Regions from separate parts of the Homo sapiens genome. Here region 1 is linked to region 2. The links come from fine-mapping of genetic effects on gene expression. A gene starts in region 2. The other region holds a variant in brackets. All regions are shown on one strand. Distances are from middle to middle.

The links. PIP is the estimated chance that this variant, and not a neighbour inherited with it, causes the effect.
Region 1: its variant is fine-mapped to the expression of AGTRAP in whole blood (INTERVAL, PIP above 0.99).

Annotation. Positions count from the first base shown.
Region 1 is chr1:11,754,168-11,764,888 of GRCh38, forward strand. C1orf167 (chromosome 1 open reading frame 167) reads left to right here and starts at 8,026. Exons shown (of 21, transcript NM_001010881.2): 1 at 8,026-8,138; 2 at 10,164-10,303. The coding sequence starts at 10,234. It also overlaps the pseudogene LOC101060126. The variant GA/G (reference allele first, on the strand shown) is at 3,336.
Region 2 is chr1:11,725,583-11,742,639 of GRCh38, forward strand. AGTRAP (angiotensin II receptor associated protein) reads left to right here and starts at 10,554. Exons shown (of 5, transcript NM_020350.5): 1 at 10,554-10,653. The coding sequence starts at 10,627. DRAXIN (dorsal inhibitory axon guidance protein) reads left to right here. Exons shown (of 7, transcript NM_198545.4): 7 at 1-275. RefSeq lists enhancers at 630-1,617, 6,510-6,599.

The DNA of each region.
Region 1 (10,721 bases), 25 kb after region 2:
GGAGGCAGGCAAGAGATAGAGCCCTTGCAGAGGAACTCCCATTTATAAAGCCATCAGATCTCATGAGACTTATTCACCATCACCAGAACAGTATGGGGAACCATCCCCATGATTCGAGTATCTCTACCTGGCCCCGGTCTTGACACATGGGGATTATTACAATTCAAGGTGAGCTTTGGGTGGGGACACAGCCAAACCATATCAGGACTGAAGTCACACTTGTCCAGTTTGCAAATCTATTTCTTGTTTTCACAAAGCTGAGCCTTCCACATGAGGAAGCCAGAGAAATTGCCCCACAGGAGGTCACTGCCTTCTCCTGTTGGCCAGAACTGGACCAGAGCTGCAGTACCTACAGGGCCCCACCTCAGGCCGGTTCTCAGAGTCTCCGGAATGGCCTGGAAATGCCAACTCTCACACTGTGTCTCTAAACGGGCTCTGGAGTCAGTGAGCCTTGGTTTAAATCCCCTATGCACTCTGTAACTGGCTGTGTTAAGAGACACTATCTCTTAACCTCACTGTGCCTCAGCTTCCTCATCTGAAAATGGGGACAATAATAGTGCCTGACTCGGGTATTAGTGAGGACTGAAAATGGTGCAACATCAGTGTTTAATAAATGTTAGATCTCATTATCTGTACGACTGTGTAATCATTTAGAGAGGGAAGGAGTCCAGGTGGCCTGTGACTGGTACCAGCCGGTCGAGGGCAGGAGTGACCTGGGGCCTCCCACCCTGGCTGACCTCATTGCTGCCAGACCTGTCCCCAGGTGAGGGGCACCAGAATGTTTCTCCCATTGGACAGACAAGGAAGCTGAGGCCTGCAGCCCCTGGGACTTGTTCAGGGTCCCAGGATGAATGTACAGAGGAGAGGATGGGTGTTAGGAGTGTGGGGTACTTGGGGCCCTACGGCCCTGCCTTGGACCCAGCCCCAGCCTCCGAGGCTGTCTGGATACAGTAATGTCGTGCCCTTGTGCCTGGGAGGGGAGATGGAGAGGAGTGCGTGGGCCTGGGGCTGGTGTCCCTCTGATCAGCTTCTATGGGGAAGGCCATGGCACAGTGGCCTGGAGCCTGGCTTTGGGCTGGGCTGCCTAGGCATGGATCCCAGCATCATCAGCTTTGAGCTGTGTGATCTCGGGCAAGTCAATTCATCTCTTTGACTCAATGCTATGAACATTTCTTGAGTGCTTTCTACAAGTTTTCAAAAGATTGGAAAATTTTTCAGGAAGTAAAACAGATTTTCCTCACTAGCAACAGAACTCAGGACCCAGTTCTCCAGGTGGTCAGGTGCTTTTGTTCACACGTCTAAGTCAGAAACTACAGAGTCAACAGGTTGTCATAAAACATTGTCATATCTGAGATGAAAATTCAGTATCACAAATTTGAACTTGAAGGAAACTTAGACCTCCCCTAGCCCAGTGGTTTTAAAAATATTTTATTTCAAGGCCAGGCGCAGTGGCTCATGCCTGTAATCCCAGCACTTTGGGAGGCTGAGTTGGGAGGATCACCTGGGGTCAGGAGTTCGAGAACAGCCTGGTCAACATGGCGAAACCACGTCTTTACTAAAAGTACAAAGACTAGCCAGGCGTGGTGGCTCGTGCCTGTGGTCCTAGCTACTTGGGAGGCTGAGGTGGGAGAATCACTTGAACATGAGAGGCAGAGGTTGCAGTGAGCTGAGACTGCGTCACTGCACTCCAGCCTGGGCGACAGAGTGAGACTGTCTCAAAAAAAAATTATTTCAAATCCCTTGTTTAAAAGAAATATTCAATATATAAGAGGCAGCAGGTCTGATCAAGTACCCTCTCATCAGTACCAGGGAACCCAGGGATCCCCAGAGCACAACGTGAAAGCTGATCTCCTAGTTCCTAAATCTCCTAGACACAGGCCCAGAAGGGACAGCCTTGGACAAGGGCACACGGAGACTTGATTTCAGAGCTGGAATGTGGCAATGCAGAGATCAGGATTGCCAGTGGAGTTTTAAAAGAATGAAACAGAAGTATAAATGAAAAACACATGATTGAAATCAGAAACTCAATGCCTAGGTTAATTCATAGAATAGATTTATCTGAAGAGAGAAATGGTAGCCTGGGAGATAGATTTGAAGAAATCACCCAGAATGCAGTAGAAAGAGACAGAAAATACAAAAAAGAAGTTAAGACACAGGTTGGGCATGGTGGCTCATGCCTGTAATCCCAGCACTTTGGGAGGCCCAGGTGAGCAGATCACGAGGTTAGAAGTTCGAGACCAGCCTGGCCAAAATGGTGAAACCCCGTCTCTACTAAAAATACAGAAATTAGCTGGGCATGGTGGCAGATGCCTGTAATCCCAGCTACTCGGGAGGCTGAGGCAGAAGAATTGCTTGAACCCGGGAGGTGGAGGTTGCAGTGAGCTGAGATCACACCACTGCACTCCAGCCTGGGTGATAGAGCAAGATTCCATCTCGGGGGGGAAAAAAAGAAGACACAAAGGATAGAGTGAGAAGGAGCAATATAAATATAGCCAGAGTTCCTGAAGGAGATGATGAGAGAGAAGCAACATTCAAAGAAATCATGTCAGAATATTTTCCAAAATGGAAAGACAGCAAAGCTCAGGTTCAAGAAGCTAAACAATTCCCAAACGGGATAAATAAAAAGAGGTCGGGCGCAGTGGCTCACACCTGTAATCCCAGCACTTTGGGAGGCCAAGGTGGGTAGATCACTTGAGCCCAGGAGTTGGAGACCAGCCTGGGCAACATGCCGAAACCCCATCAATACAAAAGACACAAAAATTAGCCGGGAGTAGTGCCTGTAGGCCCAGCTACTCAGGAGGCTGAGGTGGGAGGATCACCTGAGCCCAGGGAGTTCGAGACTGCAGTGAGCTGTGATGGCACCACTGCAACCCAGCCAGCCTGGATGACAGTCATTCTAACAGAACATGGTTCATTCACTTCTATACCTTCAACACCTAGAACAATGCTGGCACCCATGGCACCCAGTTAATGCTTTGTAAAAGTTGTAGAATGAATGAATGAATGAAAACTACAGAACACCAAAGACAAAAATTAAGCTCCCAAAAGCAGCCAGATAGAAAAGGTATTGTCTCAAAAAGATTGACAATTACTGGCAGCTGATGTCTCAACAGCAACAATAGAAGTCGGAAGACAGTGGAATGATACCTTCAAAGTGGTGAGAAAAATAACTGTCAACCTAAAATTATGCACCTGTGGTCATCCTTCAGGGATGAGGGTAAAATAAAGATACTGAGAAAAATACAGTTGAGTTTATCACCCATAGATCTTTGATATAGAAACATCTGAAGAATCTTTTGATGGCACATGGAATTTTTCTCAGAAGGAAGATCTGA[GA/G]TGCACAAAGGAAATAGTAATTTTGACCTAAAAGGAGATTAAATATTGGCAATTAACTTTAGTTTTTGTTAAATATACATATTAAAATATCTTGGAGCCAGGCACAGTGGCTCACACCTGTAATCCCAGCACTTTCGGAGACCGAAGTGGGCAGATCTCCTGAGGTCAGGAGTTCAAGACCAGACTGGCCAACATGGCAAAGCCCGGTTTCTACTAAAAGTACAAAAATTATGTACAGACGCATGGTGGCAGGTGTCTGTAATCCCAGCTACTAGGGAGGCTGAGGCATGAGAATTGCTTGAACCCAGGAGGCAGAAGTTTCGGTGAGCCAAGATCGCACCACTGCACTCCAGCCTGGGGGATAGAGCAAGACTCTGTCTCTAAATATACGTGTGTGTGTGTGTGTGTGTGTGTGTGTGTGTGTGTGTGTGTGTAGGATAACCACAGAAAGAATAGATATGAAATGTGCAGTTTCCAAGCCAGTGAGGAGCAGGGGGGACCTGAAGAAAAAGAAAACCTTGATCAATTCTTAAAAATGCAAGAAAGGAGGCCAGGTGCAGTGGCTCACGCCTGTAATCCCAGGACTTTGGGAGGCCGAGACAGGTGGATCACGAGGTCAGGAGATCGAGACCATCCTGGCTAACACGGTGAAACCCCGTCTCTACTAAAAAATACAAAAAAAATTAGCCGGGTGTGGTGGCGGGCGCCTGTAGTCCCAGCTACTCGGGAGGCTGAGGTGGGAGAATGACGTGAACCCGGGAGGCGGAGCTTGCGCCAAGATGGCGCCACTGCACTCCAGCCTGGGCGACAGAGCGAGACTCCATCTCCAAAAAAGAAAAAAAAAAATGCAAGAAAGGAGAAATATGAAAACTCTGGCTACTAGCAAGCACAAAAATAAGATAGAATAAATATGTCAAAATCATACATTTGTAAAGAATTAAACTCAAGATACATTGTCAGATCAGATTTTTTAAAATTCCAGCTATATTGTGTTTACAAATGACAAACCTAAAATTATGGACATGGGAAGGCTGAAGGTAGAAGGACGAAAAAGTTATACCAGGCAAATAGGGACCAAAGTGGAACTGGTGGTGCTAAATTAATATCCCACAAATTTGACTTTAAGGCAAAAAATATTACTACAGATTAAAGAGAGTCAAAACCTAAAGAACAGGCCAGGTGCGGTGGCTCACGCCTGTAATCTCAGCACTTTGGGAGGCCAAGGCAGGTGGATCACCTGGGGTCAGGAGTTCAAGACCAGCCTGGCCAACATGGTGAAACCCCGTCTCTATGAAAAATAAAAAAAATTAGCTGGGTATGGTGGTGCACACCTGTAATCGCAGCTACTTGGGAGACTGAGGCAGGAGAATCACTTGAACCCAGGAGGTGGAGGTTCCAGTGGAGGTTCCAGTGAGCCAAGGTTGCACCACTGCACTTCAGCCTGGGCAACAAGAGTGAAACTCTTTCTCAAAAAATAAATAGGCTGGGCGCAGTGGCTCATGCCTGTAATCCCAGCACTTTGGGAGGCCGAGGTGGGCGAATCACCTGAGGTCGAGAGTTCAAGACCAGCCTGACCAACTGGAGAAACCCCGTCTCTACTAAAAATACAAAATTAGCCGGGCGTGGTGGCACATGCCTGTAATCCCAGCTACTATGGAGGTTGAGGCAGGAGAATCGCTTGAACCTGGGAGGTGGAGGTTGCGGTGAGCCAAGATCACACCATTGCACTCGAGCCTGGGCAACAAGAGCGAAACTCCGTCTCAAATAAATAAATAAATAAACAAACAATAAAATAAAATAAAATAAATAAACCTAAAGAACAAAAGCTTCCATCCACCAGATTTAGGAGGAAAGATTAGACACACAGACCTATAAAGGGAGCAGTAATCACCCCCTCCTTCTTCAAGAATTGCTTTAGCATTTAAAAAGTTCTTTGGCATTTATTTGTTAAACATCTGACCCTCACATCAAGGCAGAGAGGTAGGGGAGGGAGGTGTTACCACCCCCACCACTTTTGTTTTGTTTTGTTTTGTTTCGTTTTGTTTGAGACAGTTTCACTCTTGTCACCCAGGCTGGAGTGCAGTGGCGCAATCTTGGCTCACTGCAAACTCTGCCTCCCGGGTTCAAGAGATTCTCCTACCTCAGCCTCCCCAGTAGCTGGGACTACAGGCACGCACCACCACTACCAAGCTAATTTTTATATTTTTAGTAGAGACGGGGTTTCGCCATGTTGGCCAGGCTGGTCTGGAACTCCTGACCTCAAGTGATCCACCCACCTTGGCCTCCCAAAGTACTGGGATTACAGGCGTGAGCCATTGCATCGGGCCTAACCATCCCCCTTTTACATATGAGGAACCTTAGGTTTAGAGAGGTTAGGGACTTGCCTAAGATCACACAGCAGCAGAAGGATTTTTTTTTTTTTTGAGACAGGGTCTCACTCTGTTGCCCAGGCTGGAGTGCAGTGACATGATCGTAGCTCACTGAAGCCTTGAACTCCTGGGCTCAAGCAATCTTACTGCCTCAGCCTCCCAAGTAGGTGGGACCACAGGTGTGCACCACCACAGCCGGATGATTTTTGTATTTTTTTTTGTAGTGATGAGGTCTTGCAATGTTGCCCAGGCTGGTCTTGAATTCCTGGGCTTATGAGAGCCTCCCACCTCAGCCTGCCCAAGTGCTGGGATTGCAGGTGTGAGCCACTGCGCCTGGCCAGCAGAAGGAGTTCATCACAGGTTTTCTGACTGAGTGCTCTTTCCTCTCCCAGCAGGTGCTTAGAAAGGAGAAAACATACAGTCTGGACAGAGGAAGGAGTGGGATGGCTGGGCACAGTGGGGAACAATGTGGGCAAAGGTTTGGGAGGTGGAAAGTGGACGGACCTTTGCAGCCTTGAAGGAAGTGTGATCGAGCTAGGCTGACGGCACGGCAAAGCTTGGGTATTAAGGTGGAGTCCAGCCAGTTTCTGAGGTGCCTGAAGGCTGGGAGAGTTTTTCTTTCTTTTTTTTCTTTTCTTTTCTTTCTTTTTTTCTTTTTTGAAACAGAATCTCACTCTGTCACCCAGGCTGGAGGGTAGTGGCATGATCACCACTCACTGCAACCTCCACCTCCCAGGTCCAAGCAATTCTCCTGCCTCAGCCTCCTGAATAGCTGGGATTACAGGTGCACACCATCACACCAGCTACTTTTTGTATTTTTAATAGAGATGGGATTTTGCCATGTTGGCCAGGCTGGTCTTGAACTCCTGACCTCAAGTGATCCGGCTGCCTCGGCCTCCCAAAGTGCTGGGATTACAGGCATGAGCCACCACATCCAGCCTTTTCTTTTCTTTTCTTTTTTTCTTTTTTTTTTTTTTTTTTTTTTGAGACAGAGTCTTGGTCTGTTGCTCAGGCTGGAGTGCAATGGCAGGATCTTGGCTCTCTGCAACCCTTGCCTCCCAGGTTCAAGTGATTCTCCTGCCTCAGCCTCCTGAGTAGCTGGGATTACAGGTGCCCGCCACCATGCCCGGCTAATTTTTGTATTTTTAGTAGAGACAGGGTTTCACCATGTTGGCCAGGCTGGTCTTGAACTCCTGATCTTGTGATCCGTCCACCTCAGCCTCCCAAAGTGCTGGGATTACAGGTGTGAGCCACTGTGCCTAGCCTTTCTTTCTTTCTTTCTTTTAACAAGAAATTTGTTATAGTTTTATTTTCCTTTGCATTTGCAAAATACTTAGGACCAACATGAAAAAGAAATACCTTCTATGGGGAAAAAAATGGCATTAAAAAGGAAGATGGGAAGGCTGAAAGGGATTTGTGCCTTAGTTGCAAGGAGCTGCAGCATCTCTGGTCCAAGGAATCAAAAAGATATTGGGAAGATATAACAGGAGGAAGAAGAATGTGAATTTACTGAGGGAGAGGGCCCCAAAGTGGGCCTTGAGGGGGAACTGGAGGCCCCGGAGTGGGTCTGGGTGGAGGGAGAGTCCCCCCCGGAAGCCATAGGGTGGGTGTTGGGGAGGGCCAGTGTATCCATGAGGCAGCATCGGTGGAGGAGGTCCACACATACCATGGAGGCATAGGACGTGAGTGACCCATGGGAGATCCAGACCGAGACCCCTTGGGGGACATGCTCATTGGAGGAGGTCCAGGATGAGGCATTCCAGGTGGTGATCAGGGTGGTGGCTGCCCCCCAGATCCTGGGGTCCCATCACGGGTGTGTCCTCAGCCATGAGGGCCATGGTTTGCCAGCTGCATCTGAGACATCCCTGGATGGGACATCGCACCTATTGGGAACGGGTGAGGATGTGAGTGTCCATGACCCGGATGTCCTGCCCCTGGGGTTCCTACCAGTGGGAGCCGGGGGCATGTCCTGCAGCCCCAAGAGGCATAGGTGGTGGGGACATGGCTGGGGGTATCCCAGATGTGCGGGGGCTCCAGGAGGCAGCTCTAGGTGCGGGAAGGAGCCAAGAGGAGGCACGCCTGGTGGAGGAAGCCCAGACCCCAGTGATGCTGCCACAGGATTCGGGGCAGAGGGTGGAGGAGGTTCCCGGGGACCTGATGGCCAAGAGAATGTCGCTCATCTTGCACGTGCAAAAGTTGCCCTGGGACCACGTGCCTTGCCTGCGGAGGACCCGGCAAAACCTGTACCAGGACGTCGGTGGCCACGCCCACGGCTCAGGGCTGGGCGGGGCCAAGCGCGGGGCAGCACGCTCTGCTCTCCGACGTCCCCTCCCGCCCGCGACCTGCCGACCTGCGGGGATCGTTAGCGGTCCCAGCCCCCGTCTAGATTCAAATCCGACTGGGTGAAGGAGGACCCGAGGAGGACCCACGCACGTGAGGGCAGATCCATGAGGGCAGGAAACTGACCTCAGACTCTTTTGGTGGCAAGAGGAGGGAGGCTGTGAGCCCCCTTAAGTGGACAGGGGTGGGGGTGGAGTGGGAGGGGGGAGTCTGAGGGAGACGGACGAGGAGCGGAGAAATGGACCGAAGAGCTCCGGCGTGAGGGGCAGGGGTGCAGGAAGGTCTCCTGTGGATTGAGCGGCCTCAAGTCAACTTGGGCAAGAGGGGATGGTGGGGTGTTCTTGGTTAGGAGTCTGCGCTGTGGAGCCAGCCCTGGGGTGCTCCCTCTGAGGCCTTGGGTGGGACAGGCCCTTCTAAGCTCCTGTCCTCATTTCTAAAACAGGGAACCTAAGTCCCAGGGCTGCAGTGCAGATTAAATGGCAGGACGCCTGCTGAAGGCTGCAAGGTGCCTAGCACGGTTGTCATTTATTCAATGTGCATTTACAAGCCCCTGCTGGGGGTCAGGCATTGTTCTATGGGCTGCAAATCCAGCAGGGAAACAAACAAACAAAAAAAACCAGCCTGCCCTCGTGTGGCTCCTAGGCCACTGGAGGGAGAAATACACTAATTTCTTCACTATGTTAGGTGGCCGCAAGTGCAGGGCAAAGAGAGTGAGGAGAGGCCAGGTTGCTGCAGTTGGAGAGACAGTGGGCAGGGAGGGCTCACTGTGATGTGGGAGGCAAGACTTGAAGGCAGAGGGGACAGCAGCACAGAGGCGCTGAGGTGAGGTCGTGTGTGCCATTTGGAGGAGCAGCCAGGGGGCTGGTGTGTGTGGAGGACAGTGGGCAAGGGGAAGAGGAATTGGGGAGGACCATAACTGGCAGCCAGATTTTAAAGACTTTGCGGGGCTGGGTGTGGTGGCTCACGCCTGTAATCCCAGCACTTTGGGAGGCCGAGGCGGGCCAATCACCTGAGGTCAGGAGTTCGAGACCATCCTGGCCATCATGGTGAAACCCTGTCTCTACCAAAAAATAGAAAAATTAGTCTGGCGTGGTGGCATGTGCCTGTGGTTCCAGCTTGTTAGAGGCTGAGGTGGGAGGATCCCTTGAGCCCAGGGAGGCAGGCGGAGGTTGCAGTGAGCCGGGATCACGCCATTGTACCAGCCTGGGTGGCAAAGTGAGACTCCGGCTCAAAAAAAAAAAAAAAAAGGTTTTGCAGCCTAAGGTATCTTGCAGCTATTGAGCTCTGCTATTGCAGCTGGAAAGCAGACAGTCTGTAAACAAATGGGCTTTGTTTCAATATAACTTTATTCACATAATAGACCACTGGCCCAGGCAGTAATTTGCTAACCTCTGGCCTACAGCCTTGAAGGCTCACGGGGCATTGAGGGGGCTGGAGAGCTTCTGTGGCATTAGAGTTGAGGCAGGGCATGATTTGATTTCAGTGTTTACAGGATCACCCTGCCGCCGCATGAAGAGGAGGCTGTCGGGCGTGAGGACGAGGCAGAATAAGGGTGACCAGTTGGGAGGTGGCAGGTGAGGGCCACTCCGCCCAGTGCTCCAGGGGTCAGATCCTGGATGCGTGTGGGAGGCAGAGCCTGTCAGAGCAGCCACTGGTGTGAGGGAGAAGGGGAATCGGGGTGGCTCCAGGATTTTTGTTTGAGCCACCAGAAGGCCGGAGCTGCCATCCGTGGAAAAGGGGGGCACCAAGATGGGAGAGAGCTGGTTGCGAGGACGGCTGGAGTTCAGTTTTGGACATATTAATGCTGAGATGCCTGTTAGACATCCGGGTAGGCGTGGAGGAGGTCGCTGGACCTGCATGTTCAGACCTGTATGCAGATCAGCCGAGAGGTCTGGGGGGCAGGATGGGGCAGCATTTGACCTGGACACTTAATATGGAAAGGGGGGTGATAAGTAGGGCAGGGAGAGGAGCCACTGAGAGACCAGAACAGTGAGGGGCAGGCCCCAGGCAGCTGGGACCAGGCCAAGAGCAGCTAGGAGTACTGCTAAAGGGAGGAGGTAGGGATCAGAATGGGGTGGGGTTGAATGAGAGCCAGGGCAACCTGTCCTCTCCCCGCAGGGCCCATCTGATTAAACAGACCAGGCCACTCACTGTGGAGTGGACCAAGGATACTCCTGTCCCTGAGCCCATGGAGCTAAGGTCTGATGCCAGCCACAAGGAGAATGTGTCCCCAAAGCCTGCAGCGCTCCCGAAGCCAGGCAAGAGGCTTAGTGGGCCTGGATGGGCAGTTACAGGAGCAGGGCCCTCTCTAGGTATTGGCCCAGAGCCCCCCTCCCAGGCAGGCCAGCCTATAGGGCCTGGCTAATTCCAGAGATCAGCCACCCACGGTCGGCTGGACATAGGACAGAGTCTTCCCAGCCTGGGGCCTAAGGAGGGGGGTCTTGGGAGAGTGAGGTCAGGAAGAGGCCTGGCTGGTGCCCCTGGCTAAGATGGGGCCCCCACAGCTCGGTCCTGGGGACATCCCTTCTCAGGCTGCTGAGGCTTTAAGAAAGCCACAGAGGGCCGGGCGTGGTGGCTCACGCTTGTAATCCCAGAACTTTGAGAGGCCAAGGTGGGTGGATCACCTGTGGTCAAGAGTTCAAGACCAGCCTGGCCAATGTGGTGAAACTGCGTCTC
Region 2 (17,057 bases):
CTAATTACCAGCAATGACAAACTCCCAGGCTCTGAGGCCCAAGCCTCCTGGGCTGCAACTGGTCTTTATTTTTGGAGGCAATGAATGGAGCACCTCGGCCTGGGACCCTCAGTGTAGGGTTTTCTGACTCTTAGGCAACTTCCTAGGGTGCTGTACTTCCTTTTTAAAGTTGGGGAGCGGCAGGGGGAGGGGGAAGTGCCACGCCCTTGTAGTTTCATGATGTCATGTTGCATGTGCTCTTGAGCTGTAAATAAAGAGACGATGGTTAAAAAGCCCACCTGGTGTCTCTCTTTGTTCCTCCAGGAGACGGTCTGTCTGTGCTGGTAGTGAGCTCTACAGGGGCATTTGGAGGGGATCCTTAGCCTGGTATTCCACCTATGACTTCTCAACACACTGGACTGAGCATTTGCCCTGAGCTAAGCAGCAAACAAGGCAGACAGGACCCCTGCCCTCGCCTGGTCCTCATCATAATCCCTCAGCCAGACCTCTTGACTGCGAGTCTCAGATTTTTTTGTTGTTTTTTTTTTTTTAGACAGAGTCTTGCTCTGTCACCCATGCTGGAGTAAAGTGGCACGGTCTCGGCTCACTGCAACTTCTGCCCCCCAGGTTCAAGCAATTCTCCTGCCTCAGCCTCCCGAGTAGCTGGGATTACAAACGTGTGCCACCACGCCAGGCTACTTTTTGTATTTTTAGTACAGACGGGATTTCACCATGTTGGCCAGGCTGGTCTCAAACTCCTGACCTCAAGTGATCCACCCACCTCGGCCTCCCAAAGTGCTGGGATTACAGGCATGAGCCACCGCACCTGGCCGGAGTCCCAGATTTTTATCTCCCTACCCATTTTAGGGTTGGGGCAGCTGAGGTCCGAAAGAGATTCTGAGGTGGGTTGCAGCAGGCCGGTCCCCAGCAGCTTCCTTCCGAGCCAAGGTGGCCGAGTGCAGAGAAGAGCAGAAGCGGGACTCCTGCAAGATAAGAAAGGACAAGGCAGCTCAACAGAAGCCAGGGCTGGGGCAGGGTCAGTTGCCATCTTGGGAAAGGGCATGAACTGGTGAGGGGGTGGCCTGGCTTGGCACCAGGAAGGACATCTCTTATCGTGGTGGCAGTTCCAGCCAGTGCCGCCCAGCTCTGCTGACCAGGGCTTCCTCGGGCAGGCTGTTATGTCTCCCAGTGACCTTGATCCTAAAGCCAAGGTGGGGCCCAGACACCCCTGGGGGCCGTGGTGACCACAGAGATGGGGCGCCCTGAGAGCCTGGTGTCCGTATCTGCAGAGACGTCTCTGCCTAGCCAGGACAGGGAAAATCAGGCTTCCCAAATCCAGGGTTTCCTAAAACATGGGTCCTCGGACCCCCAGCATCAGAATCCTGTGGACGGCAAGCCCAGGTTTCTGAGCCCCACCTGGGCCTCTGACTCAGAATTCCAGGCATGGGCTTGGGAATCTGCACAACTGAAACTCAAGTCTGAGAGCTGCTGCACCAAATCTTCTGAGAACTCACAGTCCTCCCCACACAGCCCCAGGTGGCTGGAGGAGCTCCCACGGGGGATGGTTCTGAGGAGCTGAGCCCAGAAGGCCTGTACCCCTCCAAGAGACTTTGCAAGTCATACCCTCTCTGCCCACTACTCAACTCTGCCATCGTCGTATGAAAGCAGCCATGGATCACACAGAAACAGATGCATGCAAATGAGTGAGCACAGCAGCGTTCCAATAAAACTTTATTTACACAAAAGGGTAGCGGGCCAGATTTGGTCCAGGAGCTGTAGCTTGCTGACCCCAGTCTGTACTACTGACCCCTGGGTCAAAGGTTACAGAAAGGCATGCTGGCCATCTAAAAGCCAAACCCCTCTGTCCTGGGATGTCCACTGGATCCCATTTCTACTAATAAAGGTCAGAACAGTGCTGAGATAAGGGGTTAGGGCAGTCAAGCCCAAGGCCACAGGATGTCAGCTCTCAGTGCCAGCAGCCTGGGTGCAGCCCTTGGTGGAGGGCAGATGGCTGCACTGGGGTGGATCAGTCAGGGTTCTCCAGAGAAACAGAAACAATTGGATATTATTTATATATCTTAAAATATCTATGTATTTATATATCTCATGTGTGTGTGTGTGTGTGTGTGTATACACACAGTCATGTACCATATAAACATTTCAGTCAATGACAGACCACACATACAACAGTGGTCTCATAAGATTGTTTTGTTTTGTTTTTGAGACAGAATCTGGCTTTACGTCTAGGTTGCGCACAGTCATGACACTATGTCTAGTGGCACAATCATGGTTCATTGCAGCCTCAAACTCCTGGGCTCAAATGATCCTCCTGCCTCGGCCTCCGAAGTTTTGTATTATTAATGCAATAATAATTATTGTATTATAAATACAGTAATTAGCCTGGTTAATTATTGTATTTTTTGTAGAGACGGGGTCTCGCTATGTTGCCCAGGCTGGTCTCAAACTCCTGGCCTCAGTGATCCTCTGCCTCAGTCTCCCAAAGTGCTGGGATTACAGGCATGAGCCACCATGCCTGTAATGAGCCACCATGCCATAAGATTCTAATACCATACTTTTACTGTACCTTTTCTATGTCTAGATATGTTTAGATACACAAATACTCATCATTGTGTCACAGTTGTCTGCAGTATTCAGTACAGTAACATACTGTGCAAGTCTGTGGCCCAGGAGCAACAGGCTATCTCAGAGAGCCTAGGTGTGTGGGAGGCTTCACCATCTAGGTTTGTGTGAGTACACACTATGATGTTTGCAGTGTGTAATGCTATGATGTTTGCCCATCAATGAAATTGTCTAATGACACATTTCTCAGAATGTATTCCTGCTGTTAAGCAATGCATGACTGTATATAAAGAGATTTATTTTATGGAATTGGCTCCCATGATTGTAGGGGCTGGCAAGTCTGTAATTAGTAGGACAGGCAGGCAAGCCAGAAACTCAGGCAGGAGTTAATGCTGCAGTCTTGAGGCTGAATTTCTTCTCCCAAGACCTCAGTTTTTGTTCTTAAGGCCTTCAACTGATAGGATGAGGCCCACCACATTCTCAGGGGTACCCTCCTTTCCTTCAAGCCAACTGACTGCAGATGCCCTCACACACACCTACATTCTTTTTTGACTGAAACCTTGGATACTAGAACTTGCCCAAGCTGACACACGAAATTGACCATCATGGAGCTTTCTGGAGCTCAGCTCCCCAGCTCAGATCCCGGTGACTGGACGTGCGACAGAGTTGACCGTGGCGGGTCATGAAGCTCTGGGCTTCCTCACTCTGTTTGGCAGCTTGAGCCTCAGTGTAGCGGTGGCCAACCCTGGTCATGAACATGGACACACATGCTGTGGTGGGCCCAGACCAGTGTCTACCCAGTGTTAGGACATGAAATTGCAATTTGGGGTGGGATGGGGTGGGGAGGGATCGGGTGAGGAGCGATATGAATGGATGCCTGACTGGGTCAGCAAATGACAAAACAGAGCTGCCCCTGTCCCTTCATCACACCTCCCCCAACACACGATGGCATATCCTGAAACTCACACGTTTGCACTGGGGAACCACAGTCAGGAGCCTGGGCTCTGTCCCTGCTGGCGATTAGGCACTGCGGCAAGGGCACAATTGGACGGCGCTATATGCTGTGGTCTTGAACTGGCACTGTGCATCCCGACCTTGACCTGTGTCAGCGCCTGGCACAGAGCAGAATACCTGTGTACAGAGGGAACACCTTCCTCCAGACACAGCCCTGGCCTCCATTGACGGCGTGAGGCGCCCCTCCTCTTGCGTAACTGGGAACTGTTAGACCTTCTTTTGCCAAGCATGAAAATGGAAGCACAAAGGAATTAAGGCCACTTGCCCAAAGTGGTGCTGGAGAGGCCTCCCCCAGGTCTGCCTGACTCCAAAACCTGATCATGTCCATGACCCCGTGTTGCCTCTCAAATACCTGAAGTTTACTGAGCACCTACTAGGAGCTGATCACTGATCTCACCCCTACTCCCACCTCACAGGCACTGTGCCACTCATTTAGGACCCATCGAGGCCGCTGTCAGGCAGGGGGCTGCCAGGACCGAAGTTGGATTCACCTTCAGGCCGGCTTCCCAGAGAGGAAGAGGGCTGGATTCCTTCCAGAGAGCCAGTGGAAGCACCCTCCCCTCCCCCACCCACTTCCTCGTTCTTCTCTTCTCTCTCCCTGTGGCCACTGGCCCCCTGCAAGGAAGATGAGACCTCGAAGAGCCTGCAGCAGAGTCAGACGTGAAAGCCACCGCCAGTGAGGCCTGAAAGCAGTGAAAGCAAACACCAAAGATAAACCCCATGGCAGATAGGCGTCTCGGGCCGTCGGGCTCAGTGACCACAACAGGCCTCATGTGTGTATCTGAGCCATCACTCAGATTCAGCCAGAGCCCTCCAACGCCTCCCTTGGAATTCCAGCAGCATCCACGTGGAAAAATGGGAGAACGAAGAGAGGAGGAGGAAGCAGCCTGAAGTTATGACACAACCAGGACAGGCCATGGGAGGCGGGAGGCAAGCAGCACACATTGAAACTCGCTCCGTGCAGGGCCTGGGCCAGGGGCTGGAGTTGATCTCTGAACAAGATGCTCAGAGTTGAGGAAAGCACGTGAGCATGCACATGCACACACACACACGCACCCACACATACATGCACACGCACACACACGCACCCGCACATGCAGACACCCACACCCACACACATGCACACCCATGCACATGCCCATGCACACCTACACACATGCACACACACACACCACCGCACATGCACACCCATGCACATGCCCATGCACACCTACACACATGCACACACACACACACCTGCACATGTGCGTGCACACGCACACAATAAAATAAGAGGATTGCTGCTGTATGCAGCAGGGGTTGAAGGAAATACCATAGGTCAGAATTTGAGAGTAGCTGAAGTGCCTCTCCTTCCTCTTGGGCAATAGCCTCTTACTTCCGCTTGTGTTCTGGGTGGTTTCTAACACAGCCACAGCTTCCTGGACTCCAACAGGGCACAGGCAATTTCCTTTTCTGCCTTTTCTACAATCACCAAAGGTTCCATAGGGCATTCTGATGGGTTCTCTGAGCACAAGGGTCTCTGGAGGGACAGGGCACTATTGCCACATGTCTGGGAAGGCCTGGCGGGGATCATTCTTAACCGGCAGTAATTTTCATAGGACCCTGATGAGGTGGCAGAGCAGCCGGAACATCAGGCATGATTTCCTGTGTTTTAAAGCTCAAGGAGTATTTATGGAGGCTGGCTGGAGTCCATAAGTGTCAGCAAGGGATGCCGCTGTAAGATTGAATTCTGTGCCATCGGGACAAATCGTTCAGAGTCAGCCCTCATTAGTTTTAAGTAGTCACAGAAACAAATGTCCCCTCTGGCCGGGCACGGTGGCTCACGCTTGTAATCCCAGCACCTTGGGAGGCCAAGGCAGGTGGATCATGAGGTCAGGAGTTTGAGACCAGCCTGGCCAACACAGTAAAACCCCGTCTCTACTAAAAATACAAAAATTAGCCGGGTGTGGTGGCACATGGCTGTAGTCCCAGCTACTTGGGAGGTTGAGGCAGGAGAATTGCTTGAACCCGGCAGGTGCAGGCTGCAGCGAGCCAAGATCGCCCCACTGCACACTAGCCCGGGCGACAGTGTGAGAGTTCATCTCAAGAAAAAAAAAAAAAGCAAAATTAGCTGGGCATGGTGGTGTGAGCCTGTAATACCAGCTACTTGGGAGGCTGAGATGGGAGGATCACTTGAGCCCAGGAGTTGGAGGCTGCAGTGAGCCAAGGTTGCACCACTGTACTCCAGTCTGGGTGACAGAGCACCTAGAGGGCCCTGTCTCAAAAAAAGAAAATAAAATGCATTTAATACACCTAACCTACTGAACATCATAGCTTAGTCTAGCCTACTTTAAACATGCTCAGAACACTTACATTAGCCTACAGTTGTGCAAAATCATGAAAAACAAGCCTATTTCATAATAAAGTGCTGAAAACCCTATGGAATTTATTGAACACTATACTGCAAGTGAAAAACAGAACGGTTATACTGGGGACTGGAAATATGGTTTCTACTGAACGCAGATCGCTTTCGCACTGTTGGAAAGTAGACAAATCATGTCAGACCATTGTAAGTTGGGGAGTGTCTGTACTCACTCAATACATGACCCCAAGCCTTGTGGAATGCCACGTGGGGGTCTATTATGTCCTTCCATAGCCAAGAATAGGTCGTGGCAGGAACTCCGGTTCCTTTGAGGATACCGACAGTTTCACTTTCTTTTGTTTCTCCGTGCTTCCCACCTCCCCGCATCCCCCCAACCCCACCAGCCTGCCAAGCCCGCCCAGCCAGCTGGGTGTTCTCGTGCTCTCCTCCCTCCGCCTCTGGCCCCAGCTGGTGGAGATGAATACAGTGTCAGTGTCTGAGCCACAGGGACGTTCCACAGGCCCAGCCTTGTGCTGCCTTCCGATCCTTGTCTTCTCCTACTTGCTTCACTCTATCCTTCTCATTTCAGCCCTGGCCGGATTTTTCTGCTGTGTGGTTACACGTCAGGGTCCTGGAGCCAGGCTTCCTGGGTCCCACCGCAGTTCCAGCAGCAATTAGTGCTGTGCCTGCAGCAAGCGGCTTCACTTCTGTTGATTTCAGTTGCCTAAGTGTAAACAGGAATAAGAACAGCGCGTGCCATAGTTCTGTTGTGAGCATTTACTATGAAGAACTTTCTTTTTTTTTTTTTTTTTTTTTGAGACAGGGTCTCGCTCCGTCTCTCAGTCTCTCAGGCTAGAGTGCAATGGCAGGATCTCGGCTCACTGCAATCTCTACCTCCTGGGTTCAAGCGATTCTCATGCCTCAGCCTCCCGAGTAGCTGGGATTATAGGCATGTGCCATCATGCCCGGCTAATTTTTGTATTTTTAATAGAGACAGGGTTTCACCATGTTGGCCAGGCCGTTCTCGAACTCCTGACCTCGGGTGTTCCACCCGCCTTGGCCTCCCAAAGTGCTGGGATTATAGATGTGAGCCACCGTGCCTGGCCCACTATGAAGCCCTTTCACACTGTCTGCCACACGACAACTACTGTTGGGGCTCAGAAAATGTCACCCCAATATCTGGTGCTTTGGCATGCTAAGTACTATGAACTACAGAAGACTGGAGGCCTCAAAAGCAAGGTCTCTGTGACGCCCTCCTGACCTCCTGTCTCCAGCCCCTCCTTCTCCCGTGAGGCAGTCACAGAACAAGAATTCCTCCTTTGGCAGGGGATGAGGTGACTCAAGTCTGTAATCCCAGCACTTTGGGAGGCCGAGGCAGGTGGATCGCTTGAGCCCAGGAGTTTGAGACCGGCCTGGGCAACATGGCAAGCCCTGTCTCTATAAAAAAAAATACAAAAATTAGCCAGTCATGGTGGTAGGTGCTTCTAATCCCAGCTATTCAGGAGGCTGAAGTGGGAGGATCACCTGAGCCCAGGAGGTTGAGGCTGCAGTGAGCCATGATCACACCATTGCACTCCAGCCTGGGTAACAGAGCAAGACCTTGTCTCAAGAAAAAAAAAAAAAAAAATCCTCCTTCTCCAAGGTGGGTCACAGAAACTAGAACCCGTGTCTCCAAAGTAGCCATAAAACCTAGAAAGGTGGCTCTCTCCCTTCTCTCTTTAAAGACCTCATTACAGAGGGGTTCTACCTCATACCCAGGAGGAAGGAATGCTGCATGGAGAGCCCAAGAAGAATCTGGACAAGACTTGTTCATTTTCTTTTTATCCAATTGCATTGCTACAGGGCTGTTCATTCTTCCTTGAAACTAAGCACAAAAATGGACAGATTTCCCAGGGCCTTTGAGTCTTCATCTCTGAAGCCTCCCATGTCACATGAAGCTTTGCTTAACTAAACTTGGTATGCTTTTCTCTTGTTAAGCAGTCTTTTTTTACAGGAGTGTCAGCTGTGACCTTTATGATGGGTGAGGAAAGGTATCACACCCTTCCGCCCCTACAGGGTCCTGTAAATGTCAGTTTAGTAAATGTCAGCTCTAATCCTAGGAGTTGTTTTGCGGTTTTTTTGTTTTTTTTTTGACATGGAATCTCACTCTGTTGCCCAGGCTAGAGTGCAGTGGCAGGATCTCGGCTCACTCCAACCTCCACCTCCCAGGTTCAAGCAATTCTCCTGCCTCAGCCTCCCAAGTAGCTGGGACCACAGGTGCACACCCCCATGCCTGGCTAATTTTTGTATTTTTAGTAGAGACGGGGTTTCATCATGTTGGCCAAAATGATCTCGAACTCCTGACCTCAAGTGATCCACCGGCCTCAGCCTCCCAAAGTGTTAGGATTACAGGCTTGAGCCACCGTGCCCGGCCTGTTTTTCATTTTCTCCTTACAAAGTGATCACAACTTTATTATATACCTAAAGGCTTGGATTAAATCCCTCTAGAATCTGGAGTGTATGGGAAATATTTTTTAGAAGGAAATTGATCAGGCTGCGCACTGTGGCTCACGCCTGAAATCCCAGCACTTTGGGAGGCCGAGGCGGGCAGATCACCTGAGGTCAGGAGTTTGAGACCAGCCTGGCCAACGTGGCAAAACCCTATCGCTACTAAAAATACAAAAATCAGCCGGGCATGTTGGCACCCACCTGTAGTCTCAGCCACTCAGGAGGCTGAGGCAGGAGAATCACTTAAACCCGGGAGACGGAGGTTGCAGTGAGCTGAGATCGCGCCACTGCACTCCAGCCTGGGTGACAGAGCCAGACTCCATCTCAAAAAAAAAAAAGATAATAATAACATAATATTCTAATATTGACTGCTTACTGAGAAATTACTCTCTTCTAAGTACTTTACTAATAACAATAATTAATTACCAATAATGAACTAATAATAATAATAGCAACCAGTCCTAAATCAAACTGGATGTAGCCATTTGGCTGGTCTCTAATTTACCCCTAGACTGGGGGGATCTGTGCCTCCTAAGAGGGCATTAAGTTAGGCCTATGGGCCCTGCAGCCCTGCAAAACTCTCCTCATCCATCCAGAGAAACCCTTTCTTTGCATCTGGAGAGACTATGGGTCTTGGTATTATCTAAGGACTCACCCAGGCAGTTTTGTAGGTTCCCACCTGGTTTCCCCCACCCTAGGAATAAGACCAAGTGCTCAGGTGTACCCTGAAGGTTTCCATACCTAGGTGACACTAAACAAAAGCTGGTGTTCTCTAAAGGAAAGTTGATGTTAGGAAGGGACCTGGAGGTAGAGCGGATTAATGTTCTTGTTGCGGTGGGGGGATGTGGTGGTCAACAATCTTTAAGGGAGGTGCCAGGTGAGGCAGGAGACAGCCCTTTCTTTCCTCATGTACAATTGGGGGAGGAATTTCTTATGGTTTTTCAGCTAGAGTTTTCTAAAACTTTTGGTATGCTGATTAAAGTGGGCTCCCACCAATTTGGCTCCTCAGGTGTTGCTTTTTGTTTGTTTGTTTTTCCCAGACAAGGTCTCACCCTGTCGTCCAGGCTGGAGTGTAGTGGCGTGATCTCGGCTCACTGCAGCCTCCCCGGTTCAAGCAATTCTCGTGCCTCAGCCTCCTGAGTAGCTGGGACTGCAGGTGCACACCACCATGCCCTGCTAATTTTGGTATTTTTAGTAGAGACGGGGTTTCACCATGTTGGCCAGGCTGGTCTCGAACTACTGAGTTCAGGTGATCCACCCTCCTTGGCCTCCCAAAGTGCTGGGATAACAGGGGTGAGCCACTGCGCCCAGCCTCATCTTGTGTTGGTAATAACAATAGCTTGTGTGTCCTGCCCATTTACTAAGTGCCGGGCACTGTTCTCTCCTAGAACAAACCGTAGTTAGACTCCTCTGAGTCCTCATCTTGACTAGGCCTCGGCCTTGGACCTCTGTGTCTTCCTGTCCTTGCTGGGCCTGAGCCTGCATAATAAACCAGTTTCAGCAAGAGTCCTGCTAAGTTAGCAAGAACTCCCCCATCCTTGATGTCTCCTCCTAGGAATCTTCCATTCCTGCTCCCTCATTCTGCTCTGGCTATAAATCCCTCCTTGGTCCTTGTTGTATTCGGTGTTGAGCCCAAACTCTCACTCCATGGCAATAACCCTACAGCAAGTCTTGAACAGTACTGGTTTAACAACAGTCCCAATAACGTTTTCTTTAACAACAGCAGTTAGCTCATTTAATCCTCATAAGGATCATATGAGGTAGGTAGCCTAAATAGCCCATTTACACAGGGAAGTGGGAAGGAGAGAGGGTGCCCCCAAGGATGAGACACAAGCTGTTGCCACATCAGCACTTTGCGCCTGGACGGTCCCCCAGTTGTCCTGGCTGCAGGCAGTCCGAACAGTCCGCTTCCTGGAATATTAGCCAGGCAGGATACGCCCTGGGCGACAGAAACTCCAACTTTCGCCAGCGGCCCCCAAGTACTGCCTGGGCGGTGGCGGGAGTCTGGAGCTTGGCTGAAGGCGCGAGCTGCCGACGCCGTCTCCTAGCAACCAAGCGGCGGTCACGTGACCCGCTCCAGCCCGTTTCACGTGGTCTTGAGCTGCGCTGGGGTTGGAGTGGCCGCAACGGGCGGGGCGGGGCGGGGCCGGGCAAGTTTGTTCCCCGAGTTCGGAGCCTAGGAGCCCCCCGCGGCTGCGGCGCAGGTGCCCTCGGCCTGAGTCGGGATGGAGCTGCCTGCTGTGAACCTGAAGGTGGCGACGGGCTGGGGGGAGGGTCCCCTTTGCGGGAGGAAGTGGGACATTTGCATTTTCCCGGAAGGTGGGAGGAAGGACCGGAGTTTTGGGGAAAGAGGGATGGTAGGGAGGAAGGGAAGGTACAGACCCCACGCAAGAAGGAGATGGGCAGGCAGGCCACAGCAGGGAGAGTGATCCAGGCACAGGCCAGCAGGGCGACACTGAGGGGCCGTGGGAGGTGGCAGCGGAGGGCAAGGGCCGCCCCCTCCCGGACTCAGACCCTCCCAGCGGGCAGCGCCGGTCCCAGCATTGCTGTTGCCTGCACGCCCAGAATTCCCCTGGAGGAGGAGGAAGGTGCGCGGGAGGGGCTTGTAGGCGGCTCACCTCCCCCGCGCGGGGTCAGGGACTGGGCTTGCCCCCCGGGTCCCAGCACCGTTTCAGGAGCCTCCTTGTTTGCTAAGTCGGGTTAAGGAAATCAGATGTTCCCAAGCAGTTGGTTTTATAAAGTTTACACATCCAGCGCCCTTATTTCATAATCAAGAAGCGCGAACTCCAACAGAAATTACTTAAAAGCAGAAAACCCCAACTTTGTGCACTGGGGAAAACACTGCAGGGCTTCCTGTGGTGTCTTCATTTCCCGAGCCGTGAGCTCAGTCCGGGTCTGGGTGCCAGCGGCTGTTCTTTTTCTCCCCGCCCAGCCCCGCCGCCCACGTGTCTGGGCTCCATTTGCATTAGAGGGGCTAGGGGCTGTAGTTTTGGTCAGGAAGGTGTGGACCTTGGACCAAACCGGCCATTTTGGGTCTTAGTGCAGCCTCCTTTGAGGCAATATCCAGGAATGTCCTCTTACTCATGAATGACAGAGCATTTAGCTCCCTGTTGGTGTCTGGGACTAAAGGAACCTGAGAAATAGATGGTTACAAAACAATGGCTTAATACACTTTATTATTACACAACATCTGTGCTATGACTTGCTATAGGCATGTTTCCCTTCTTAATCATACTTGCTTCAGCAAACCTTCCTGAAGCTTCCAGTCAAAGGTGGTGGGGAGACATGGCTGGAGCAAGGGAATGGGCTTGGATGGAACGTTCAGCTGGGAAGAAATTTACGTGACAGCAGCCGAGGCTTGTTGGTATCAATATGCACTCTATTCCAGGCAATGTGGGGTTAACACCAACTGCCTTTTCTCTGATGAGGGATTTGCTTAAAATAATTGCTGACAGAGGATCAGGTGAGGGCAGTGGGAGGGACAGAGCTCTAATTTATGGGCTTCTGTGGTGTGCCAGGTTATTTAATCAAGGCAGCCTTATGAGAAAGCTGATATGGTCATCTTTTTACAGATGAGCAAACTTCAGCTTAGACTGGGTAAATTGCCAAGGTCCCACGGGGAGTAAGTGGCAATATCAGGATTTGAACCCATAGGGATCAGACTCCAGGGCCAGGTCCTTTCTGGGGTACCAGCTTAGGGCTGACTTTAACGTTGGCTGTTTCTGTCCTTTGGGAGGGCTTAGTCTCTTTGGGGCTTTTTTTGAGCAACTTTTTGGGCCTGACAGGCTAAGAGCATCCACAGGTATGAGCTATGCTGGCTTTCGGTACCCAGGATGAAAAGGCTGGTCCTCCCCTTGACTTGGCAAACGAGACCCCAGTCTCCAAGGGTGTTAGCCGCTACCAGTCAGAGACAACAAAGTGCTGGAAGGCCCTGAGGGGTCAGGGTTGTCAGGTCGTGTACAGGAGATCCAGGTGAATTTGAATTTCAGATCAACAACGAACAGTTTTTTAGTATGAGTAAGTCTCAGGCAATATGTGGGACATATTAACAAATTATTCATGATCTGATATTGGAAATTAACTGGGTGTTCTGTATTTTTGTTTGCTGGATCTGGCCACCCTGTGGAGGGCAGCTGTTGACTCCTTGCTTATAGGCACTTAGGGGATGTTCTGAGTTCAGAGCCCTTCAGGAGGTGGGGAACTGCTCCCTGTGGCCTGCACTCCCTCCCCACTCCCTCGTTTTGTATATTCCTTGGGCAAGGGCTGAGTGCCTGCTTCTGCCCAGCTCAGCCAGAGTGGGCAGTGGTGCCAGGTGAGAAGAAACAACTGCCCCAGGCCCTTTGCACAAAGGGCAGCTCCTGACCAAGCCCTGTCCATGTCTCTTGAAGCCAGGTCCTGAGCTGCAAGAATGACATTGTGATGAGCTTAGAAAGGACTGGACTAGGGTACAGAGGTCTTGTGGGAAGAAGACCTTGGGAGGAGGATCTGGTGGTCTAGGAGGTAGTCGTGTAGCATTTGGGTTAAAAACTCAGTAATGAGGACTGCTGGGATGGAGGGCTGAATTCCTCACAGGCACTGTGTGGAGCGCTTCCCACACCTCTCCACCTCCCTGTACCACTGGATCCACACAACAACACTGAATCAGGCAGTATTGCCCTTCTTTGCAGAAGAGCCAACAGCTGTTCTGAGAGGTCAGGTGACTTGCCTAAGGTCACTAGGTTCTAAAGTCATGGAGCCAGGATCAGATCCACCTGTTTGCCTCCAGTACCCACGAAGTTAACCGCTGCACAACTCTGCCTCCCATCCTTGGCAGCCCTGACTGGTGTCCCTGGGCCCCGGCCACCCTGGGGGATCTCACTAGCACGTGTAACAGGCCACCAAGTGTTTGCACAGGACTGGTAGGAGTTTATTCCATTTCTGGGAAGTCCTACCCCGCCATGGGTCCTCTAGTGGCAAACAAAGGGTTTAAGTCTTGGTCTGCATGCCCTGCTGGTTTCTCTTCAGCCTTTCCTTCTCCAGGTTAGACTTCCTCATTTCCATCTGCCCTCTACGGCTCTTCGAGATCCTGACGGTGTAGCACAGTGGACAGAGCACAGGCTTTGGGGGCAGGCAGGTCTGCATTCAAGGTCTTGAGTAGGTTTCTGTGTGACCTTGAGTAGGTTTCTGAACTCTCTCAGTATCTATTTCTTCATTGTAAAAAGAAGTTAAATACAGTCCCTACCTCCTAGGATGATGGATCCATGGTCCAGGACGTAGTCTAGAATTAGGGTTACAAATTCAGGCTGGGCCAGGCGTGGTGGCTCACACCTGTAATCCTAGCACTTTGGGAGACCCAGGCAGGTGGATCATTTGAGGTCAGGAGTTCGAGACCAGCCTGGCCAACATGATGTAACCCCACCTCTACTAAAAATACAAAAATTAGCTGGGTGTGGTGGTGCTCGCCTGTAGTCCCAGCTATTCAGGAGGTTGAGGCACCGAGGATCACTTGAACACGGGAGGCAGAGGTTGCAGTGAGCCGAGATCGCACCACTGCACTCCAGCCTGGGCGACAGAGCAAGACTCTGTCTCAAAAAAACAAACAAAAACTCTGGCTGGATAGATTGATTCTGACATTTGTGTCTGGGCTCTGTTGTTTGTAAGCTTTATGAATTGGGCCAATTTACTTAATCTCTCAGAGCCTCAGTTCTACCCCATACAGTTACACGGATGACATGAGTTAGGGGCAGTGCAGTGTAGATGCATGGCAGGCTGGTGCTTGTCAGTAGCAGGAGTTGCTGCTGTCGTTGATGATGCAGGATCCCTGCCCCACATAGGTATTTAACAGTTAGTAAACGGATACTTACAGTGACCGTCCAGATAGATGCTTGTCTCTGGCAGTTGAGGCACCCCCGTGGGACAAATGGGTACTGCCTCCGTTTCGCAGAAAGGAGCCTGAGGCCTTGGCGCCTGGACCAGCACCCAGGTTTCCTGTTCCAGCATAGCATCCTGGGACCCTCTGCTGCCTTGGTCCATTGACCCCTGTCTGGGAAAGAGCTGGGCGGCCTCCCCTGGGCTGAGCACTGTAGTGAGAGTCCAGGGGCTCAGGTCCGTCCTTCCTGCCCAGCTGGGAAAGGTCCTGGCCCTGCCACCCGTTTAGCTCAGGTTCCTTCCCTGCTTCCAGCTCCTCTTTCAGGCCATACCTGAGAATCCTGTGTCTCTTTGGCTACCAGGAAGCTCCCCCAGGGCCAAAAGACAGTGGTTTTGTCCTGACAGTTACTGGCCCCTCTTTCCCTGGGCTGCCAGGAAGTGCAGGGCCCGTTTGGCTCAGTTTCTCCCTGGAGTCTTCCTGCACATTAAGGCCTCTCTGGGTGTCCTCCTGTTACACAGATGAAGAAACTGAGGCAGGGGAGGCTTAGGCTTCTGGACGTTTCTTTTCCCAGGGGCTTAAGAGGAGCAACTGGTGCTAACTTTGTTCATATTTATCAAACCAAAGTGACGTCACGCAGAGGAGACTGTGTGTGTGCTAAGGATCTGCAGTATTTCCAGGTTACGTTGTTTTCTTCCCTAACAGAGATGGCAGAGGTGTGGGCCCAGCTGGGTGCTCACTCTGTATTACAGGCCCTTCCAGCGCTAGGAAAAGCCTTTACCTCATAGGTTGTAAGCATGACCCTTAGGGTATCCTGCGGATCAGAGGCCCCCCTGGGACTCAGCCTTTCATGCTAACTGCCATTCTTTCCGGAATAATCCAGGGCTCTGCAGGGCCCATTTATTAAAGACCTACTCTGTGTACAGTCTAGGCATAGGAGCGAGAGCATTGAAAATGAAGATCATTTCCAAAACAAGCCCAGAGTGGGAAGAGTTAGGTGTCGATTTTGGGGAGGAAAGGGGTGATGGGAGCTACCTTCCCTCTGTCTCTTTCCTCGGTGTCTTCTTTAAAAGCTGGATGTTGGGACCACTGTGGCTGACTCTGCGGTGTGGCCCTGAGCAAGTTCCTTCCTGTCTGTGGTCCAGGGTTTACTATCAGATGGAGGGGACAGTGGTTAGCTCTGAAGATAAAGATCAGAATCGTCCTCATGCCCAGCCCTGCCTGCCCCCAACTTCCTGTCCCTCCCTCCTCCACTCCCCTCACCTTCCACTCCAGCCACACTGGCTTCTGTTCAGTTTCCAGAAAGTTCCACGCCCCCCTTCTGCCACAGAGCCTTTGTGAGTGCCGCCCCTCCTGCTCAAAATGCTCTTCTTCCCCCTCAGCCTCCCCCATCCCTTCCTCAGAGAAGCCCCTGACCACCCCAACCCTCCCAGCCTCCCTGCTGTTCAATCAGGTGCCCTTTCCCTTGCTTTCCTTCAGGATGCTTTCCTTCAATCAGGTGCTTTCCTTCGGGATGAGGGTTCACTGCACCTCCATTCCTAGGGCAGAGTACCTGGTTAGCGAGGTCAGTACTGAGAGCGCAGCTCCGAATCTGCTCTGCACACCTCTGACTCCCCAGGGTGAATGAAAAGCAGGTGCCAGTGATGCTGGGTGACACTAAATGTTTAAGAAACTTAACACCGTTTATCACTTCAAGCCCCTGGGGATTGAAATCCATGGAAGACTACACCTCTCTTGCCTCAGTTTCCCCATCTTTGTAATGGGGAGAGGCCTAATGGCTGGACAGCACAGCCTGGGTTTGAGTCCTGGCTCTGCCACTGGCCTGCTCTGTGACCTTGGGCAAGTTACTTCCTTCTGAGCCTCAGTTTTCTCAGCTGTAAAATGGGGATAATAAGACCTCAGAGGATTGTAAGGATTTAGTGCATTTATATACAGAAAGCACTTAGAATGGCACCTAGCACATAGGAAGCGCTCAATAGTAGACGAAGGTAGGTGAGGTGATGGCGAAGATTCCTTCTAGAGCTAGACTTCTGTAACACACTACTCAGCCTGGTCAGAGTCTCGAGATCTTAAAGTTGGGTGCATCGGTCCTTACAGAATTATTTTCCTAGTCTCTTGGAGCTGAGAAAGGAATTTCTTTTGGGCCACAGAGCCAGGCCCCTTGTGGTTCACTCTGGCCCTGGGCCCTGGAGGTAAAGGTGAAGTATCTCAGCCACCAGCTCTGGATTCCATCTGCCCCCATGTGTGGACCTTTCTCACAAGCCCAAACAGTTCCCAGCTGAAGGCCTGCGCCCCCAGCGGGGAGGTTGGGTGCACTGGTTTTGGAGGCGAGTTTGAAATTTAATTCCAGTTTTGCCACTTGCTACCTGTGGAGTCTTGATCAACATAATTTATCTCTGAGTCTGGTTTTCTCATCTGTGAAATGGGAATAATAGTACCAGAGGCTGCTGTGAGGTCCAGATAAGGTCATGTGAGACGGTTGGCATAGGGCCTGGCACATAGTTGGTGTGTGGTCAAGAGTAACTCTTCTAGAAATGCTTTTTCCTCTGCTGCCAGAGTGAGTTTGTCTGTCTTTCTTTTCTGTCCTTTCTTTCCCTTCTTTCCCTTCCTTCGTTCCTTCCTTCCTTCCTTCCTTCTTTCCTTCCTTTTCTTTCTTTTTCTTTCTTTCTTCCTTCTCTTTCTCTCTTTCTTTCTTTTCTTTCTTTCCTTACTTTCTCTTTCTGGCAGGATCTTGCTCTGTCCCCCAGGCTGTAGTGCAGTGGCATGATCTTGGCTCACTGTACACTTGACCTCACTGGCTCAAGTGATTCT